Linked DNA regions of Homo sapiens: region 1 is linked to region 2. Evidence: fine-mapped expression QTL. Tissue or cell type: whole blood. Region 2 holds a variant in brackets; the other region holds the start of a gene. All regions are shown on one strand. Distances are from middle to middle.

Region 1 (9,517 bases), 37 kb after region 2:
TGATGGGAGAGGTGTCCCTGGGACAGCCTGAGCCTGCCTTGAGTGACACCTGAGGTCTCATTCCAGGCACAAGGACAAGTGCAGGCTAGAGGGTCTGAAGCCAGAGGTCTCGAGTAGGAAGATGCTGGAGGGAGAGAACCTGTCATTGTTTGAGACAGGGTGAGGGGTCAAGGGAGGCTTCCAGGGCATTAGGGGGCTCCAGGGTTGCTGTTTAGGGCACTGGAGTGGAGCCTTGGGGCCAAGCAGGTGGGCTGGGCCTCAATGGTAGATATGTCTTATCTCCTTGGCTGTCTTGGCCGGAACTTTCAGTTGTAGAAAAAGTAACAGATGGAGGCCATCTGGGGCCACAGGGAACATCATTATTATTATTTGAGATGGGGTCTTGCTCCGTTGCCCCGGCTGACAAGCAGAGGTGCACCACTGCAGCCTCAACCTCTTGGGCTCAAGCCGTCCTCCCGTCCCATAGCCTCTGGAGTAGCTGGGATCACAGACCTGTGTCGCCACACCTGGCTAATTTTTGCATTTTTTTGTAAAGACAGGGTTTCGTCATGTTGCCCAGGATAGTCTCCAACTCCTGGGCTCAAGTGATCCTCTCACCTTGGCCTCCCAAAGTGCTGGGATTACAGGCATGAGCCACCATGCCCGGCTGGAAAATTATTAAAAGGGTCTGACAGGTGGGGATTTCAAGAGATCTCAGACATGAAAATTGGGGCCTCATGCAGAACTGAGATCCAGAACTGGAAGGCCATTGAGAAACCTTAAGCGTGGCTCACATTTCTAAGGAAAAATATCTTTTCAGTTCCTTGAAGACTTGAGCTCCCAGAGGGTGGTAGTGGAAGGGATTTTCTTTTCTCTTTTAAAATTTCCTATATTAATTTTGTTTTTTAAAAATTGCAATGTGGACATTTCCATGAGTGAAATAATGCAAGATGAGTTAATCCAAAGTCAGAATTTCCCCCCTACTTCCAATTCTCTGTTCCCCTCCTGGCTGAAATCCTGCACTTGTGGGAGGGAGAGGGACAGGGTGGAGGGCCATGGCTGCCCGTGCATCCTCTCTTTGGGGTGCGGCAGGCTGCAGGATCTTTTTTTGTTTGTTTTTGGGGTTTTTTTTTTTTTTGAGAGAGTCTCGCTCTGTCATCCAGGCTACAGTGCAATGGTGCGATCTCAGCTCACTGCAACCTCTGCCTCCTGGGTTCAAGCGATTCTCATACCTTAGCCTCCCAGGTAGCTAGGATTACAGGCGCATGCCAATACACCCAGCTAATTTTTGTATTTTTAGTAGAGATGGGGTTTCACCATGTTGGCCAGGCTGGTCTCGATCTCCTGACCTCAAGTGGTCTGCCCGCCTCGACCTCCCAAATTGCTGGGATTACAGGTGTGAGCCACTGCGCCCGATGGGATCCAGGATCTAGAAGCTCTCCACCAGTTCTGCCATCCTCTCTGGGAAGTCAGCAGCAGGGCTTACTAGCAGATGGGGTTTGGCCTCTCACTCTGCCCATGTTTCTTGGGACCCACGTTCCTGGAAGACTTGCTGCAGCCTAGCCCTTGCTCCCTCCTCCTCCTGTTTCAAAGCTGCTTCAGTACCGTTGCTCTGTCCAGCCAGTTTCCACAGTCATCTCTTCATTGTTCAGCACTTGGGATCTTTCCAGCTTCCATGTTTCTAAAGGGCCCTTCTGTGAACACTTCGGACAAAATATTCCTTCACTTCTGGAGTATTTCCCTGAGGGTACATAGCTAGGAAAGGCATAAGAGAGCCAGAGGGTTTGAGGAGCTTCACAGCTCTTGTTGCCTACACGCAGATGGTTCAGAAGGTTTTTTTTTTTTTTTTTTAAGAGGATTTAAGCGTCTACTGACAAGGTAAAAAAATTAATAATAATCTACTTATTGCTTTTATATTCTTTGTTAAAATTCTGTCCTCATGGGGTTCAGGACGAGGCGGATGAAGCAGCATATTACTGTTGAGTTACAGGTGAGGAGATGAAAGGCAGCAAAAGTTTCTCTCAAAAACACTGACATATTCCTCTAGGTATGAAGGAGGAATATTTAAAAAAAAAAAAAAGGAGGGGTGTGGTGGCTCACACCTGTAATCCCAGCACTTTGGGAGGCCAAGGCAGGCAGATCACTTCAGGTCAGAGTTTGAGACCAGCCTGGTCAACATGGTGAAATCCTGTCTCTACCAAAAAATACAAGAAAACTAGCCAGGTGTGGTGGCGTGCACCTGTTATCCCAGCTACTCTGGAGGCTGAGGCAGGAGAATTGCTTGAACCTGGGAGGTAGAAGTGGCAGTGAGCTGAGATCGCACCATTGCACTCCAGCCTGGGTGATAGAGTGAGCCTCCATCTCCAAACAAAAAACAAAACAAAACAAAACAAAACAAAACAAAAAAAACAAGTCCTGGTTCAGGCTCTGTTGTTAACCAGCCCTGAGATGTCAGTAGCTCTATAAGATGAGAGGGGATGATCTGAGGTCTCTGAGCGTCCTTTTGGCTTGGGGTCCTGTAACCTCTGCATGGAGCACTGGGATGCTTTGCTCCTCCATCTGCAAGGAGCTGAAGGATGGGGGATTTGTCCTAGAGCCCCAGCTCCCTTGCTTTTTTTGTTTGTTTTTTTTTTGAGACGGAGTTTCGCTGTTGTTGCCCAGGCTGGAGTGCAGTGGCACGATCTCGGCTCACTGCAAGCTCCGCCTCCCGGGTTCACGCCATTCTCCTGCCTCAGCCTCCCGAGTAGCTGGGACTACAGGCGCCCGCCACATCGTGCGGCTAATTTTTTGTATTTTTAGTAGAGACGGGGTTTCACCCTGTTAGCCAGGATGGTCTCGATCTCCTGACCTCGTGATCTGCCTGCCTCGGCCTCCCAAAGTGCTGGGATTACAGGCGTGAGCCACCGCGCCCGGCTAGCTCCCTTGCTTTTAACCAGTTGTTGTGTGGTCTGCCCCACGCTTCTGCCTGGCCTTGGGAAGCCCAAAGGTGGAGCAGCCACGAAGTCTCCATCTGGCCACTGAGGCCGACCTGTGAGGCGTCCAGTTGAGACCACATCTTGTCCCAACTCACTCAGCTGCCTCACATGGCCCACTGTGGTGCATGGGGCACACTTCCCCATCTGGCTCCCCAGAGGAAGTCAGAGCTGTGGTGGGGGCTGGGGGCACTTAGGGAGATTGCAGGGGAGCAGAACTGAAGGTTCTGAGGCCTTAGTCCCTGGGGTTGTTCTCCAGAGCGGATTGCAGATTGGAGGAAGTTGGAGGAACTGTAGGTTTGCCCTTCCTGGGTCAGGAAACCTGGCTTCGGGCCAGGTTCTATCTCTACCTGTTGTGTGACCTTGGATAAACGTCTTGCCCTCTCCTAGGCTCAATGTCCCTACAGGTAAATGACCTCTAAGTGCCTGCCCTAAGGGGCTAAGATTCCCCTCCTTTCCCTGCCTTGCGGTTGGCAGGTTCTTATCCTTCTGGAGAGGGTCATCATCATTCTCTGTTCAGGTCCTGGCAGGGGCAGCCACAGGCAGAGGGTCTTTGGGTCTTAATTTCTGAAGGCTTCCATGTCACATAAAACGTTGATTACATAAATTTGTTATGCTTTTCTCTTAAGCTGTCTCGTTACAGGAGTGTTGGTTGTGACTCTTATGATCTCTTATGATGGGTGAGGAATGGTATTACATCTTTAACGGTACCACAATGTGAGGCTTAAAAGTTTTTTGTTTTTTTTTTTTTGGTGATGGGAATCTCTCTCGCTCTGTGGTCCAGGCTGCAGTGCAGTAGTGCGATCTTGACTCACGGCAACCTCCACCTCCCGGGTTTAAGCAATTTTCCTGCCTCTGCCTCCTGAAATAGCTGGAACCACAGGCGAGCGCCACCACGCCTGACTAATTTTTGTATTTTTAGTAGAGACAGGGTTTCACCATATTGGCCAGGCTGGTCTTGAACTCCTGACCTCATGATCCGCCCGCCTCGGCCTCCCAAAGTGTTAGGATTACAGGAGTGAGCCAGCATGCCCAGCCCAGACTTGCCTTTGACCAGGTGCCACCACCTGCCCCCACGTGCCCCTGGCCAGGACTGAGCCCTGTACCCTGTTACACGACTACTTATTCTATGTGAAACCCCAAGCTATTCTATGTGAAACCCGCTACTACAATGGGCTAATTTTTTTGTATTTTTTTTTTTGTAGAGATGGGGTTTCACCACGTTGCCCAGGCTAGTCTTGAACCCTCCGCCCGCCTCGGCCTCCCAAGTGTTGGGATTACAGGCGTCAGCCACCGCGGCCGGCCAACAATGTGGAGATTTAAAAGGTATTTTACATATATAATCTCTGACCTATTCAATTAGTAGGGCTTTTCTTTTATGACCTTTCCCTTCCCTTTCTCCAAGTTCTTCCTCACTCCTCCCCATAGCCCTTCCTTTCGCCCCTCCCATTGCCCCCTCCTATTGGCCTCCCCTTCGCGCAGGCGCCCTCAGAGGCGCTGAGTCAGGGCGCTGTTGAGCTCGGGCAGGCCCGGATGGGGCGGGGTTAGCGCCTGCGCTCTGGACGGCTTTGGGGCAGGGCAGATTTATATCTGCGGGGGATCAGCTGACGCTCCGCATTGCAGACTGCGGAGTCAGACGGCGCTATGTACGCCCTCTTCCTCCTGGCCAGCCTCCTGGGCGCGGGTAAGCCCTGGGACCCTCATCCTGGGGAGGAGGTGCCTCGCAGCGTCCATCTGCCCCAGAATGGGCTGTGCCGGGCCTGGCCCCTCTGCTCCCCCTGCCCTAGTTGGCAAGGGGGCGCGCGCACTGCGCAGGCGCGTTCGCTGGCTTTCTCTGGCTTTCTCTGGGCGGCTGGGGGCTGCGGGGGGCGGGCTGCGAAAATGCCCCCGGGAGGACGGCCCAGGCCCTGGGCAGCATCTCCTTCGGGGCTCGAGTGGGTTCCTGCGCGGCTGGGGCCCCGAGGCCTTCCCTCAGGCTGCGCTTCCCACTGTGGGGGTGGGTGAGTCTTGTAGGGTGACCCCTTGGGCAGCTGTGTTGTGCCTGTGCTGGGCGCACGTGATCGAGGTGGGCTGGAGCCCCGTCCCGCAGGACACTTTGGCCGTTGGCTTCAGTTGCCTGTTTGTAAGGGTAGCGAAGCTGCAGGAAGCACATGTGTATCATCTATATTGACGTTTGCATATGTATTTACTCTGGATTCTAGGTGTTGACAAAACGAGTCAAACTCTGTAAAAATATTTTGAGATTTATTCTGAGGCAAATATGAGTGACCATGGCCCGTGACACAGCCCTCAGGAGGTCCTGAGAACATGTGCCTAAGGTGGTTGGGATACAGCTGGGTTTTACATATTTTCGGGAGGCACGAGACATCAATCAAATACATTTAAGAAATACGTTGGTTTGGTTCAGAAGGGCGAAACAACTCAAAGCGGCGGGGGGCTTCCAGGCCATAGGTAAATTTAAACATTTTCTAGTTGATAATTGGTTGAGTTTATCTGAAAACCTAGAATCAATAGAAAGAAAGTATTCAAGTTAAGATAAAGGATTGTGGAGACCAAGTTTTATTGTGCAGAGGAAGCTCTCAGGTAGCCGACTAAGAGAGCGAGCACGTTGTAAAATATTTCTATGGAAATGAAAGGGTGACTGGCTCTTAGTTGATTATCTCCTGGATCTGGAGAGGAAGGAAGGAAAACATAGGGGAAAGGGGATTCTCTATAGAATGTGGATTTTTCCCACAAGAGACTTTGCAGGGCAATTTCAAGGTATGGCAAGGAAATATATTTTGGGGTTAGATATTTTGATTTTTTTTTCCTTGTCTTATAAAATGTTATGCCAGAGTCAGATTGGAAAGTAAGTCACGATATATGGGGTCAAATAAAACCCATCTGATGAGAGTTTATGGTTTGTAGGGTATGATTCCTACACCCCTTAGATAGGAATTTGGGCAAGCTAAAAAAAATCGGAGCTTAATTCTCATAGGTATTGAAGGCGATATAGGGTTTTCTGGTCCAGTTATTTTGCCATGGGGTCCTCATTTCACTTGCTTTGAAATGTCTTGCATCTGGGTGCGGTGGCTTATGCCTGTAATCCCAGCACATTGGGACACCGAGGTGGGAGGATCGCTTGAGCCTAGGAGTTGGAGACCAGCCTGGGCAACATAGCAAGACCCCACCTGTGAAAAAAAGAAAAAGAGAAAAGAAAGTCTTGCACGCTATTGGCCGTTTTTTTTTTGTTTGTTTGTTTTGTTTGTTTGTTTGTTTTTTGAGACGGAGTTTCGCTGTTGTTGCCCAGGCCGGAGTGGTGCAATGGCGTAGTCTCGGCTAACTGCAACCTCCGCCTTCCGGGTTCAAGCCATTCTCCCGCCTCAGCCTCCCAAAGTTCTGGGATTACAGGCGTGAGACACCGCACCCAGCCCCCACCACAATGTCTGTTTTTTAGTAACTATATGTAGTTTAAGGGCTGGCTGCCATTTTTAACCTAGCTACCCAAATTTTAATAAAAAGTAACAAAGTGGATGACAGGGTTGATGCAAAACCGAAGAAATGAGTTAGCTTTCAGCAGCTCTCAAGAATGTATCTTGACCCTATACGAAGCTCTTAAATTTGTTTTACTTGTACACAATGAAAGATGATCTGCTTATAAAAAAATCATTTTGATTTTATACTCAAGCTTATACTGCAGTTATTCCATGGTCTGTATAATAAACTAATGCTGGTCTCTAAATTTTTTATACTGATTCAGGGCAATTTTTTTTCTTTCTTTTTACATTATCCATTGTTCTTGTTGACGTTGAGTCACTCCTCACAAGACCCTTAAGAGTTCTGATTCATTCACATCACCCAAAAGGGACTCAATCGTGTCTCGGGAAATATAAAATCCACCTCTGGTATATATGGGCTTATGGTTAACCACAATATTTAGTTAACCAAGGGACCCTCTTCCGTGAACACTCGGGTAAATGGGAGGTATTGTAATGGCCTTGGTTTAACTTTGCTGTCCTACCTTTAGGATTAGGCCAAAGTCAGTGCTGATAACAGTGTTTGAATGCTCCCTGGCCTTCACAGCTCTGGCCCCTTTGTGATATTGTGAAAATGTTACTCCTAAAATTTCTAGACATGATAATGAGTTTTGTTAGTGAAAGTGCCTGGTGACTGCAGCCATTGTCTGCTGCCCGAGAGGCACTTAGAACTTTCTTCGTGACACTGTCGTAGTACAGAATGCCACCCTGAATCGGGATGGGCTTTGTATTTTGTGTTTCAGTGATGTCCTGGTGGTAGAGACACTTGCTTTTGAGTTACTTTTCTGCCCATCCAGCTGCCCCTCCTTTTTCCCCACCTAAAAGCGAAAGCAAAGCCATGGCACCATGAGAGAATTGGAGAGCATGTAATCTGACCCCTTTGTAAGGAATGAAGACCTGGAGGTGCCCAGAGGTGACTCTCCCAAATCATAGACCATTTACTGGGGATGCCAGGACCAGAACCCAAGACTCCACAGTGCTCGCTTTTTCCATATCCCTCTGTCCACATGGACCTCTTAACTTTTAAAAACTTAGTGTAAGTTACATACGTGGACGATTAAGTAGACAACTTGATGAATTACCACAAAGTGAGCAGCCCCCGAGGTTGGGGAGCAGTGCAGTAGCATCCAGAGGCCCCTGTTCACCCATTCACTGCCCTGTCCCACTTGCCCCGAAGGAAACATTGTTAACCTTTGAACACCATAGATGTGAAGGCTGCAGTTTCGATCTTTTACAAATGGGATCATGGAGGGTATTGCTGTTAGGTGAGTCCTCTGGTGGAAAAAGGAGCGTGTTCATCAGCTAGGTGTAAGGCATGAGGGATGGTGCCTGGGATGTGGCAGGTGCTCCCTGAAGCTTAGATGCCCTGATAGCTGTCAGCTGTGTGGTGGCTAGCCTGCTGAATGTTGTCTACACCACGCTAAGACAGTTATGTTTTCTGGGGATGCTAGAAGGTGTTATATATATTCTTTCAATAACATGTGAATTTATAGCCTGGCCTGCTGAATATCAGTAGGAACTTCAGGTCTTGGCCTGTCAGGGATTTTGGATAAATCTCCTGTTTATTAATAGTAAATCAGTTTTATTCTGTGAAAATAAGAGTATAATTCCTGAAGAAAGAAGGGTTTGTTTTAACAAATCAGTGATTTGTCAAGTCCTTGAAGTACATTTGACAGGTTGTTTTGTTTCTTTTTTTTTTTTTTGGAGCAGAAAGTTTAATAGGCAGAAGAAAGGAGAAAGGAGAGCAGCTCTCTCTTGTGAGAGAGAGGCATCCGAAAGGGAGAAGCCTGACAGGTTGTTATTGAGATGGGAGTCTTGCTCTGTCCCCAGGCTGGTGTGCAGTGGCGCGATCTCGGCTCACTGCCACTTCCGCCTTCCGGGTTCAAGCGATTTTCCCACCTCTGCCTCCCGAGTAGCTAGGATTATAGGTGCCCACCACCATGCCTATAAAATCCACCTCTGGTATATATGGGCTTATGGTTAACCACAATATTTAGTTGACCAAAGGACCCTCTTCCCTGAACACTCGGGTAAATGGGAGGTAATTTTTTGTATTTTAGTAGAGATGGGGTTTCACCATGTTGGCCAGGCTGGTCTTGAACTCCTGACCTCAAGTAATCCGCCTGCCTCGGCCTCCCAAAGTGCTGGGATTACAGGTGTGAGCCACCGCACCCGGCCCTGACAGGTTGTTTTGAGAACAAACTATGAGAGTTGAAGTGTGTTGGATTGATTGGTGTGGCATTTTGTAGATGAGGGAAAGGAGAACTTGGTCTTCCATTTTCTTGGTGAGTGAGACCATGGGATGTCCAGGCAGCTGTGGGGAAGTGGAAGGGTAGGGCGGGGTGTTGCTGGCTGGGAACAGCACCTAATGAGGCATGCTTAGGAAGTTCTCAAGGCCAAGACCAAAGCCACTTAGACAGGTGTGCATGGCAGCTTTGGAGGCAGCTTCTAGCAGAGATTCTAGGTTACTGGCTACCAGGCTGTAAGCCTTGCTTTCTGGCTCCTTTTTGGTTCTGCCACCAGGAAGGAGGGTCTGGATATTCTTCAGATCAATGAAAGAGAGTACTAATTAGAATTACATTGCCCTGCTTGCCTTTTTTTTTTTTTTTTTTTTTTTTTGAGACAGGGTCTTACTCTGTTGCCCAGGCTGGAGTGCAGTGGCACCATCTCAGCTCACTGCAACCTCCACCTCCCGGGTTTAAGTGATTCTCATACCTCAGCCTCCCAGGTAGCTGATAGCTGGGATTGCAGGCACCTGCCACCATGCCTGGCTAATTTTTGTATTTTTAGTAGAGAAAGGGTTTTGCCATGTTAGCCAGGCTGGTCTCAAACTCCTGACCTCAAGTGATCTGTCTGCCTCGGCCTCCCAAAGTGTTGGGATTACAGGCGTGAGTCGCCGCACCTGGCTTTTTTTTTTTTTTTTTTAAGGGCTTTAAAACAATGATGATAAATACAGTGATTGGGATGAAGATTTTGGCTGTTGCAAAAGTACTAATTGCTTTATTTTTTATTACATGAAGTTCCAAAAAAATAACTTTGTGGCATTTGTAA
Region 2 (11,349 bases):
GCTGGGTGCAGTGGCTCACACCTGTAATCTCAGCACTTTGGGAGGTCGAGCCAGGTGGATAACCTGAGGTCAGGAATTCAAGACCAGACTGGGCAACATGGTGAAACCCCGCCTGTACTGAATATACAAAAATTAGCTGGGCATGGTGGTGCACGCCTGTAGTTCCAGCTACTCGGGAGGCTGAGGCACGAGAATCACTTGAACCCTGGAAGAGAAGGTTGCAGCGAGCCGAGATTGTGCCACTGCACTCCAGCCTGGCAACAAAGTGGGACTCTGTCTCAAAAATAAAAAATAGGCTGGGTGCCTGTAATCTCAGCACTTTGGGAGGCCGAGGTGGGTGGATCACCTGAGGTCAGGAGTTCAAGACCAGCCTGACCAACATGGTGAAACCCCATCTCTACTGGAAATACAAAATTAGTCAGGCGTGGTGGCGCATGCCTGTAATCCCAGCTACTTGGAAGGCTGAGGCAGGAGAATCGCTTGAACCCGGGAGGCGGAGTTTGCAGTGAGCCGAGATTGTGCAATTGCACTCCAGCCTGGGTAACAAGAGCAAAACTCCGTCTCAAAAAATACAATAAAATAAATAAAAAATAAAATAAAATAAAATATTCAAAAATACCTCATGTTTAGGTGTGAAATGGAGTTTGGTTTTTCAGTGACACGAATATGTGAAAGTGTCTTGTCTCACCCCCAGCCCTCAGCTAGGGTTGCCCCAAAAGTGGTGGCAGAGGAGTTCCCACAAGGGAGTGCCTGAATCATCCTGAAGGGGGGCCAGCTGGGATTCCAAAGAGAGAAGCACGAAGCGCCGGGGTGATGAGTCCAGGCTTTTATTAGGGGAGCTCACTTCCACAGGGCCGTGCACATCCTCAGGCAGCCAGGAGAGAAAGGGAGGTCCACCTAGGTGTGTCCACAGCCATGAGGTCAGGGTGTGGAATTTTTCTGAGGCTTTAAGGAATTGGGCTCAAGCCTGGGGCCAGTTTTGTTCAGGGTTTTGGGCAATAACCTAGACTTCTTTATCAGTGCCTGGGAATGTTCGAGGCCCTGGTTTGGGTTCAAGCCTGCTGGGAAGCCCTGCAGCTGGTTGGGTCATGAAACAGTCAAGGCACTCTAGATTTTCGGTCAGGACACGGAAAGAAAGTGGGACAAACTAGGGGACGCTACAGAAGGGACATTTGAAAATCAGAATACTTTGGACAGTTTTTTTGTTGTTGTTGTTCCAAAGGGCGGCTCTGAGCATTGCAGGATGTTCGGCCGTCCTGGTCTCTGGCCCAAACACCAGCAGTGCCTCCCACATCCCTGCAACAACCCAAACCGTCCCTATGAGTACTCAAAACGCCACGAGGCTCCAGCTCTGCCTGCTGGAGCCCCAAGGATCTAACCCCTCTGGAGCCAAGGACATGTTGCATGCCAGGGATCCCTTACTGGGTGACTGAAGCAGGGTTAGGGTCAGGGGAGGGACCCCAGTGAGCAGTTGATGAGCTCAGGTCGGCCATCTTGTGTGGTGCTGCTGGGAGGGTACAGGCCCAGAGCTGGGCACTTGCCGGGGAGACCAGATGTGTGTGCTGAAAAGTATCTGCATGATCTTGTCTTCAAGGAGCTGGTGAATGTCAGGCCTGGAAGGAGTTGAACAGCCAGGGAGACAGCAGGGCATGTGGCGTTTCCAGACCCTAAACCTGCTGTCAGCCTTGGGATGAGACCTCCCCAGGTGCAGCCTCACCCCTCCAGGGCCTGCATGCTGCGTGCTCTGCTTTTCCTTGGGCCTTCACATATGCCGCATCCTCAGCCTGCGGCACTCTCGCCGACCTGCTGTGTGTGCCTGGTGGACTTCCCTCCGCTTCTCACTTCAGATACTGCCTCCTCCAGGAAGCTCTCTCTGACCCCCTCAGTCTGAGCTGAGTGGCCTTGCAGGCCCTGTACTCACCCACTGAAGCATTTACCCCTCTCTATCCCTATTTGTGGGTCTCTCTCCCTAGTAGAGCTGGGAGTCCACAGAGGGCTCTAATTCTCTCTTGAATTCCCAGGCCTAACATAGGGCTGGCAACCATGGTCAGTAATATCTGTGGGCTGAAGGAGAAGGCAGAAACATAGAGTGGAAGGCAGGGAGGTGTAGGGAGACAGAGTTTGAGGGCAGGAAGGTTTGAAGGGTCAGAGGAGGAGGCGCCTGTGGAGGGTTGCAAAGACAAGAACGGTGCCAAGCCATGGCACGGAGGGAGGGACAAGGGCTGAAGGGAGAGACGCAGAATTCATGGTAGGGCCGGGCCCCAGGGACTCTAGGACAATGGCCCATGCCACTAGCCTGAGGAGTGTGCCCTCCGAGTGAGGACAAAACAAGAAACCATTACCGCGGAAGTGCACAGGCCCTAAAATGTCTAGAGTGCTGAGTTCACAGGACCCTTAAAGATCACAAATCTGAGCCCGGTGTGGTAGCTCACGCCTGTATTCCCAGCACTTTGAGAGGCCAAGGCAGGTGAATCACCTGAGGTCAGGAGTTTGAGACCAGCCTGACCAATATGGTGAAACCTCATCTCTACTAAAATTACAAAAATCAGCTGGATGTGGTGGCGTGCACCTGTAGTCCCAGCTACTTGGGAGGCTGAGGCAGGATAATTGCTTGAACCCAGGAGGCAGAGGTTGCAGTGAGCCGAGATTGCACTACTGTACTCCAGCCTGGGCGACAGAGAAAACAAACAAACAAACAAACAAAAAACAAACCACTAGTCTGATTGACCATTGTATAGATGAGGAAAACCAAGGCCGAGTCCAATGTGACATTTCTGGGGTCAAGGCCAGTCTGCCCCTGGAGAATTTCTTGTCCATAGAGGCTTAGGGTTTCTTATGGCAAAATACTTCCCCTACTGCACTCACTTGCACTCCAATTCCCGCTACTATGCATTTCTTCAGCTTAAGGCACCTAAAGCAGAAATGTCAGTTTCAGATCCCACAGGGCTCCCATGGCTGGGTGTGGACACTTCCCATGGCTCAGTGGAGCATGCATGACCCTGCAAGAACAGGTCAAACAGGCCGTGTGATCCCTTGATCTGAACTGTTGGCTACTAACTGAAATTATGTTTAAAAACCAGACATGATGCCTTTAAGACTGTGCAAGTCAAGCAGATCCTTTAGGGGACAGACTCAGTGGCCAACTGTCTGGGAGGCCCAGTTGGGACTTCCCATGATTTTGGAAATGGACTTCCTCATTATTTTGGAAATCCCCCAGAAGGGTATCCTTGGAGCCTCTTAGTCACCGATACCAACGGTACCATACTCAGAGATGTTTTCCAAAAGGAGGCTCAAATTGGGAGGGCTTTGGGGGGCTGGAGGATGGTAGGGAGGGAGGAGGGGAGCAGAGGGCAGAGGGGAAGCTGGCCTGTACAGGATTGAAAAAAAGAGAGAAGGAAAGTTGCTTCCTTCTAATGTGCTCATTTATGCCATTCATACAAAATTCCTGAGTTTGTTTAACTCCTTCATTTTATTTTTATTTTTTAATCACTTTTTTTTTTAAAGACAGGGTCTTGCTCTGTTGCCCAGGCTGGGGTGCAGTGGCAAGATCTCCGCTCACTCTAACCTCTGCCCCCCGGGCTCAAACGATCCTCCTGCCTCAGCCTGCAGGTAGCTGGAACTACAGGTGCCACCACACTGGGCTCACCTCCTTCATTTTAGAGCTGAGGAAATGGAAGTCCAATAAAAGAGTGACTTGCCCAAAGAACCAGCAGGTGGTGGCAGGGCTACCCTGTGGTAGGGGTTGGGGGCAGAGGTAGAATCCAGGTCTCCAGGCTCTTTCCTCTCTCAGGAAGAAGGTGAGGGTGAGTGTGCCCGGCGCTGGCCTCAGCACCACACAGCTTATCTCCATTTTACAGGGAGAGGGAAGAACTCTTACAAGGTTCCACAAGCAGCCGGTATCGGCATGGATGAGACCCCCTCAGGTTGGATAAGTTCGCAGGAGAGACAATTTCCCATGGGCTGGGAGAGACGGTTGTTTCTTGGAAGAGATGGCCCCAAAGGGTGGACAGGAAGGGATAGAGAGAGAGAAACAGAGAGAGGAGAGGGAGAGAGAGAGAGAGAGAGGACACACAGAGAGAGTTAAAGATCAATAAACAGCGGGGAAAGGTGTGAAGTGACAACTGAGCCCTTCCACAGACTCTCTCCCTAGTTCGACTGCCCCCCACCCCCACCCCCAAGGGACCCACTCGACGCTGCCCGCGCATGCCCCAACCCGTTCGTGCCCCCGCCTGGCCGCGTGCAGTCTCGCGGATGCGTCAGGCCACGAGTGCGCCACTGCTCGCCCCGCGCTGCGTCCCAGCAGACCTGCGCGCCTCTCCTCTGCCCCGGTCTGCGCCCTCAACCCCGCGCTTCCGCTATATTCCGGAGGAATCTGAAATCAGATTCAGATGTGAAGCGCGGTTTCGGATCCTCTTTCGCTTCTCTATCTCGAGAAACTTGAAACTGCGTCCTCTAGGA[T/C]TGCATCAAACTGCATCTTGAGCGTGGAGGAGGACTGCTGAGCCCCACGGGTTCGCCGGGCTGGAGAGGTCTTGCGCAACCTGAGGGTTGGGGAGAGAGGGGTGTTAGCGGAGGGAATGGGCCCTGACGGCCCTAGAAGCTTCCCCGAGCGCCTCCCACCTCCAGCGGACTTGCTGTTAAAAACGCAATTAATGCGTCCTGTGAGTCAGAATAAGGATGACTACTTATGGAAGAGGAAGGAGTGACTGGGGTGGGGCGCGTGGAGAGACTTCTGCTGTGGCTGGCAAAGTTCTTTTTCTTGGTCTCGGAGGCAGTTCACTTTGTAGTAATTAGTTAAGCCGTACATCAGAACCATTGGATTCTGTATCCGGGTTTTATTTTTACAATAAAAATACGTTTAAAATAATCAGTTACAGTTATAAAACTGAAATTCTTCCCATTCTAATTTTCTTTCTCTTTTTCTTCCTTCTTTCTTTCTCTCCTCCTCCTCCTTTTTCTTCTTTTGTTGTTGTTGTTTTGTTTTTTATTTTTTATTTATTTATTTGAGACAAGAGTTTTGCTGTTGCCCACGCTGGAACACAGTGGCACGATCTGGCTCACTGCAGCCTTGACCTCCTGGGCTCAAGCGATCCTCCCTCCTCAGCTTCCCGAATAGCTAGGATCATAGGCGTGGACCATCACACCCGGCTAATATTTTTTATTATTTATGTAGAGACAGGGTCTCGCCATGTTGCCCAGGCTGGTCCTGAACTACTGGGCTCAAACGATCCTCCTACCTCAGTCTCCTAAAGGGTTGAGATTACACGTGTGAGCCACTTTGCCCGCCTGAGCAGCTTTTTAAGTCAGGCATTGAGTCAGTATCTCTGGGGACTGAGAAGAGGTATATATTTTTAAAGTTCCTCCAGTTTTTCAAAAGGGCAGCCAGGATTGAGAAACACTGGGCTATCATGGTGGGATTCCATATTAAGATTTTGAAAGCCACAGGCCTTGAAGAAGGAAGCAGAGGCTCCCAGAAGCCCAGGTGGATGCTCTGCCTGAGCCCTCCCAGCAGGCGAGGTGCAAAGCTGGCCTGGAGCAGGAACTCCCACTGCCCACGCCAGGGCTCTGCCCTCAGACCACCCTGAGTGTGCCTCCTTCATGCAAATTTCTCTGTCTTCAGATTGGAGATCATGGGGTAAAGATATATGTATATGTGTGTGTGAGAGTATATATATATATGATATATATATATATATGATATATATGATATATATATATAAAAGATATATATAAGGTGTATATATATAAAAGATATATATAAGGTATATGTATATATAAAAGTATATATATATTTTTTTTAAATTAAGATTTAGGCCAGGCATGGTGGCTCATGCTTGTAATCCCAGCACTTTGGGAGGCTGAGGCAGGTGGATCTCCTGATGTCAGGAGTTCGAGACCAGCCTGGCCAACATGGTGAAACCCCGTCTCTACTAAAAATACAAAAATTAGCTGGGCATGGTGGCACAAGCCTGTAATCCCAGCTATTCGAGAGGCCGAGGTGGGAGAATTTCTTGAAACTGGGAGGCAGGCGGAGGTTGCAGTGAGCTGAGATTGTGCCACTGCACTCCAGCCTGGGCAACAGAGTGAGACTCTTGTCTCAAAAAAAACAAAAACAAAAACAAAAACTAAGATTTATATTACTGTTGCAATTATTAAGGCAATGCAGTTCTAATAAATAACCATCCAAAGATGTACATAAATGCAATTCACAAAATAAGAAATCCACATAGGCTGTAATCATGGAAAAGGAGTCTCACCAAGTTTTAAAGAGACACAAATTAAACCAACAATGAAACATTTTCTCACCTATACCATTGGCAAAGATAAAATGCTAATGCTGCATAAATATGGGGAAATGAGTACTACCTTCAAATTCATACCTGTACAATCTTCTAAAAGGAATGTATTAATGTGGAGGAAAAGCATTAAACATGCCTTCTGTTTGCTCCAGCAATTACACTTCTAGGAAAAACACATGTGCCGAGGTATATGTTCATTGCAGAGTCATATGTCATGATTAAAGTAATTGGAAACAGCACAAAAATCCAGAGATAAGAGATTTGTTACCAAAAAAAAATTCTGCATCCTACAGTGGAAATTAAGCAGCCATCAAATAGAATGAAGTCTTTAAGTTAAAAAAAAAGAAAAAAGAAAGAAAAGAAAAAAGGGCTGGGCGCAGTGGCTCACACCTGTAATCCCAGCACTTTGGGAGGCCAAGGTGGGCGGATCACCTGAGGTCGGGAGTTCGAGACCAGTCTGACCAGCATGGAGAAACCCTGTCTCTACTAAAAATACAAAAAAATTGGCCGGGCGTGGTGGCTCATGCCTGTAATCCCAGCTACTCGGAAGGCTGAGGCAGGAGAATCGCTTGAACCTGGGAGTAGAGGTTATGGTGAGCCGAGATTGGGCCATTGCACTCCAGCCTGGGCAACAGGAGCAAAACTCCATCTCAATAAATAAATAAATAAATAAATAAATAAATAAATAAATAAATAAAAATAAAGGGAGGAAGAAGGAAGGAAAGGAAAGGAAAGGAAGAGGCAGCCAGGCACGGTGGCTCACACCTGTAATCTCAGCAATTTGGGAGGCCAAGGCGGGTGGATTGTGTGAGCCCAGGAGTTCAAGACCAGCCTGGGCAACATGGTGAAATCCGATGTCTACAAAATATACAAAAATTAGCCAGGCCTGGTGGTACATGCCTATATTCCCAGCTACTTGGGAAGCTGAGGTGAGGATGACTTGAGCCCGGGGAGGTCAAGGTTGCAGTAAGCTGTGTTCACGCTATTGCAGTCCAGCCTGGGTGACAGAATGAGAGCTTATCTCAAAAAAAACAAACAAACAAACAAAAAAAACAGAGATTGAGTCTGGCCAGGTGCAATGGCTCACGCCTGTAATTCCAGCACTTTGGAAGCCTGAGGTAGGAGGCTTGCTTGAGGTCAGGAGTTTGAGACCAGCCCGGCCAACATAGTGAAACCCCATCTCTAAAAAAAAAGGTTTTTTTAAATAAAGAAAAAATGTTAAATATAAAGGGGATGAGGCTGATTGATCTATATGAATTGATGTGGAGAAATGGATATATCATGTTACATGAAAAAATAAGTTCCAAAACAGTAGTTCTATATACACACATGTATATATGTGTATGTATTTGTGCATACATGCATGTCCATGTGTGTATATATATATACACACAGGTATGTGTATATGTGCATAAGTGCATGTATAGATACGGATGTGTATATGTAGTATGTATGTGTATATGTATGTATGCGTGTTGTAACCCAGAAAAGTGTCTGAGGCAAGTCTCCATCAATATTTAGAGGTCTATTTTGACAAGACTGAGGACGTGCCCCAAAAAAGAGGCATATGCCACAGTGGGATCTGTGGCCGCATAATTTTTTCAGAGAAGATTTTGAGGGCTTCAGTATTAGAAGGAGAAAGAGCAGGCAGGAGGGAAAGTGGGGAAGGAAAAAAAAAGGAGGGTAGGCAGTGAGATAAGGGGGCACATTTCTGTGAGGCTTTGATTAGTGCTCACCAAATCCACGTGTTACCTATGAAAGGAGAGGGTGGAGGCACAGGCAATTATGCCTCTGTCGCCGGCTCAGTAAATCTGCATTTGTCTCTGGGTGGCTGGAGGGGTGATTTCTAGTCTTGTCTTTGTCTTATACCTGTGAAGATAAGGTGTTAATGTACATGGTCAGGGTGAGGGAAGCCACCAGCGGAGACACGGTCTTCTATTTTGTAGCTATCTGCTTAGAAACAAAAAGAAAGGCAGTTTGACCAGGTGTGGTGGCTCACGCCTGTAATCCCAGCGTTTTGGGAGGCCGAGGCAGGTGGATCACCTGAGGTCAGGAGTTCGAAACCAGCCTGCCCAACATGGTGAAACCCCATTTCTACTAAAAATAAGAAAATTAGCCAGGCATAGTGGTGGGCACCTATAATACCAGCTACTCAGGAGGCTGAGGCAGGAGAATCGCTTGAACCCAGGAGGCAGAGGTTGCATTGAGCTGACATTGTGCCACTGCACTCTAGCCTGGGCAACAGAGTGAGAATCTGTCTCAAAAGAAAAAAAAAAGAAAGAAAGAAAGAAAAAAAGAAAGGGCAGCTTTTGGTGTGACTCAGTTTCCAAGCTTAACTTTTCCCTTTGGCATAGTGAGTTTGGGGTCCTGAGATTCTATTTTCCCTTCACTCTGTGTACGTGTATATGTGGGTGTCCATGTGTATATGTGTATATAGGTACAGGAATGTGACCACTTACCTCACTGCCTGTGTTTTATGTGTGTGTGCATGACTAAGAAAATATTAACTATTAACACTGGTTATCTCTGGGCAGTGGAATTACAGGGGTTCTTTCACTTTTTACTCTCATACATATCTATATTGTTTGTATTTTTATTTTTTTACCAGCAGAATGTACTGTTTTTTGTTTTTGTTTTTGTTTTTGTTTTTTGAGACAAGGTCTTGTTCTATCGCCCAGGCTGGAGTGCAGTAGCACGATCTGGGCTCACTGCAACCTCTGACTCCCAGGTTCAAGCGATTCTCATGCCTCAGCCTCCCAAGTAGCTGGGATTACAGGCATATGCCACCACAGCCTGGCTAATTTTTGTATTTTTAGTAGAGACGGGGTTTCACCATGTTGGTCAGGCTGGTCTTGAACTCCTGACCTCAATTGATCCACCGGCCTCGGGCTCCCAAAGTGCCACCATGCCTGGCCATACTGATTACTGATTTTATAATCAGAAAAGAAGTGTAAAATATTTTTCATTTTTAAAGAAAAAAGCAGGCCGGGTGCAGTGGCTCACACCTGCAATCCCAGCACTTTGGGAGGCAGAGGGGGGCGGATTACCTGAGGTCAGGAGTTCAGGTGGCTAACATAGTGAAACCCTGTTTTTACTAAAAATACAAAAAATTAGCCAGGTGTGGTGGTGCGCGCCTGTAATCCCAGTTACTTGGGAGGCTGAGGCAGGAGAATCACTTGAACCCGGGAAGCAGAGGTTGCAGTGAGCTGAGATTGCATCATTGCACCCAGCTTGGGCAACAAGAGTGAAACCCTGTCTGGAAAAAAAACAAGCAATACATATATATTAAAGAAAATGCCAACAAGAAGAATAAAAAACCCAAGTTCCCCAAGTTCTCCCCAGTTCCATCCCACAAAAGCCACTGCAGTACCGTTTTGGCCCATTTGCTTCCTATCTTTCTCCTATGCCTTTTTAAAATAGCTGTTGTTATTCAGCATAAATTATTTCACATCCTGTTTTTCTACACCTGACTTCTTGATGTTCATATTTTTCTCCGTTATGAAAAAGCCCTCACAAATGGCCCTCTGATTGGGCCTATAACATGTTGTGACTGTCTTGATTTTCTTAACAGCTTTCTTATTGTCAGACATTTGGCTCATCTCCAGTCTTTTACCATTGAACTAATGCCCTGATCAGCATCTCTGTATGAGTGTTTTCCTGGCCATAGGCCTTAGGACGCATTCCCAGCTGTTAAATTACTGGGCTAACGGAAAGGAACACATTTGAGTCCCTGACTCCTCATTGCCAAATTGCATTCTGCGCAGGTGGAGCCGTGGTGCCCCTCGAAAGATAATTTTTCTTTCGTTTTCTAGTAAGTCCAGTTGCTTTTCTGAATCTTCTTCCTGCAAACAGACTCAGTTTTCCCTGCTTCTGTCCTCCTTCCCCGTGGTTTAATGGACAGAGAAGGTCCTGTGGGTTCAACTCATAGCTGGGTCTAAGGCTGGCTATGTAGCTTTGGGAAAATCACTTGCCCTCCCTGGGCCTCCTCCATGTCTCTCCTCTAGCTCTTGCCTTCCTTCCCACGTGGCTTGAAAGATAATGTGCCTGACTTTGCCTTCCAGAGGTCAGATGGGGTTGGATAGTACTGTTATCTTTCTTCTCCAGGATAGCAGCAAACCTTTCCCTCCAAGTTTTCCTCCAGAGATCTGGCAAGAAATGTTCCCTTCGTTTGTAAGGAAGGCCTTCTGGTTTCCTACCTGGCACCATGGAGTGGAAAGGTGACCTTTCCTAGAACATCTCCCCAAGGCCAGCCTTCTCCCAAGAGAAAGAAAACAGGGCCTGTTGGCTCACGGTTCGTTCTGTTTTCCCTTCCTTGAAAATCAGGGTAGAGAAGCTCCAAGTAACTTTCCTCCTCCTTGGCCTGCCCAGAGGCCAAACAAGATTGTTACTGAAGACTCAGGGAGGCTGGGCATGATGGCTCACACCTGTAATCCCAGCACTTTGAGAGGCTGAGGTGAGTGGATCACAAGGTCAGGAGTTCAAGACCAGCCTGGCCAACGTGGTGAAACCCCGTCTCTACTAAAAATACAAAAATTAGCCAGGAATGGTGGCAGCCACCTGTAATCCCAGCTGCTTGGGAGGCTGAGGCAGAAAATTGCTTGAACCCAGAGGCGGAGGTTGCAGTGAGCTCAGATCGTGCCACTGCACTCCAGTCTAAAAAAAAAAAAAAAATTGCCGGGCATGGTACTGGGTGCCTGTAATCCCAGCTACTCAGGGGGCTGAGACTGGAGAATCGTTTGAACCCAGGAGGCAGAGGTTGCAGTGAGCCGAGATTGCACCTGGGTGACAGAGTGAGACTCTATCTCAAAAAAAAAGACTCAGGGAAACAGCACTAGAAACCCTGGATTCACCCATTCCCACATGCATGGGAAGGAGAGAAAAGACATCATCTTTGTTCATCCCTCACAAGTTCGTGATTGAGGCATTCTCCTCAAACAAAAGATAGATTGACAAGAAAAAGAAGCAATTTTATTTTTAACACGTGCTATGCCCATCATGTGGGAGAAACCTCAGTTCAAAAATATCTTTTGAAGGCTGGGCACAGTGGCTCACA

The links. PIP is the estimated chance that this variant, and not a neighbour inherited with it, causes the effect.
Region 1: PSAP starts here. The variant in region 2 is fine-mapped to the expression of PSAP in whole blood (TOPMed, PIP 0.94).

Annotation. Positions count from the first base shown.
Region 1 is chr10:71,846,300-71,855,816 of GRCh38, reverse strand. It overlaps PSAP (prosaposin), which reads left to right and starts at 4,566. Exons shown (of 14, transcript NM_002778.4): 1 at 4,566-4,635. The coding sequence starts at 4,596. RefSeq lists enhancers at 4,355-4,885, 4,886-5,416, 5,808-6,307.
Region 2 is chr10:71,882,038-71,893,386 of GRCh38, reverse strand. No RefSeq gene overlaps it. Among named protein-coding and RNA genes, the nearest start is that of LINC03139, 9.6 kb to the right of the region's middle. RefSeq lists a silencer at 4,220-4,309. The variant T/C (reference allele first, on the strand shown) is at 4,459.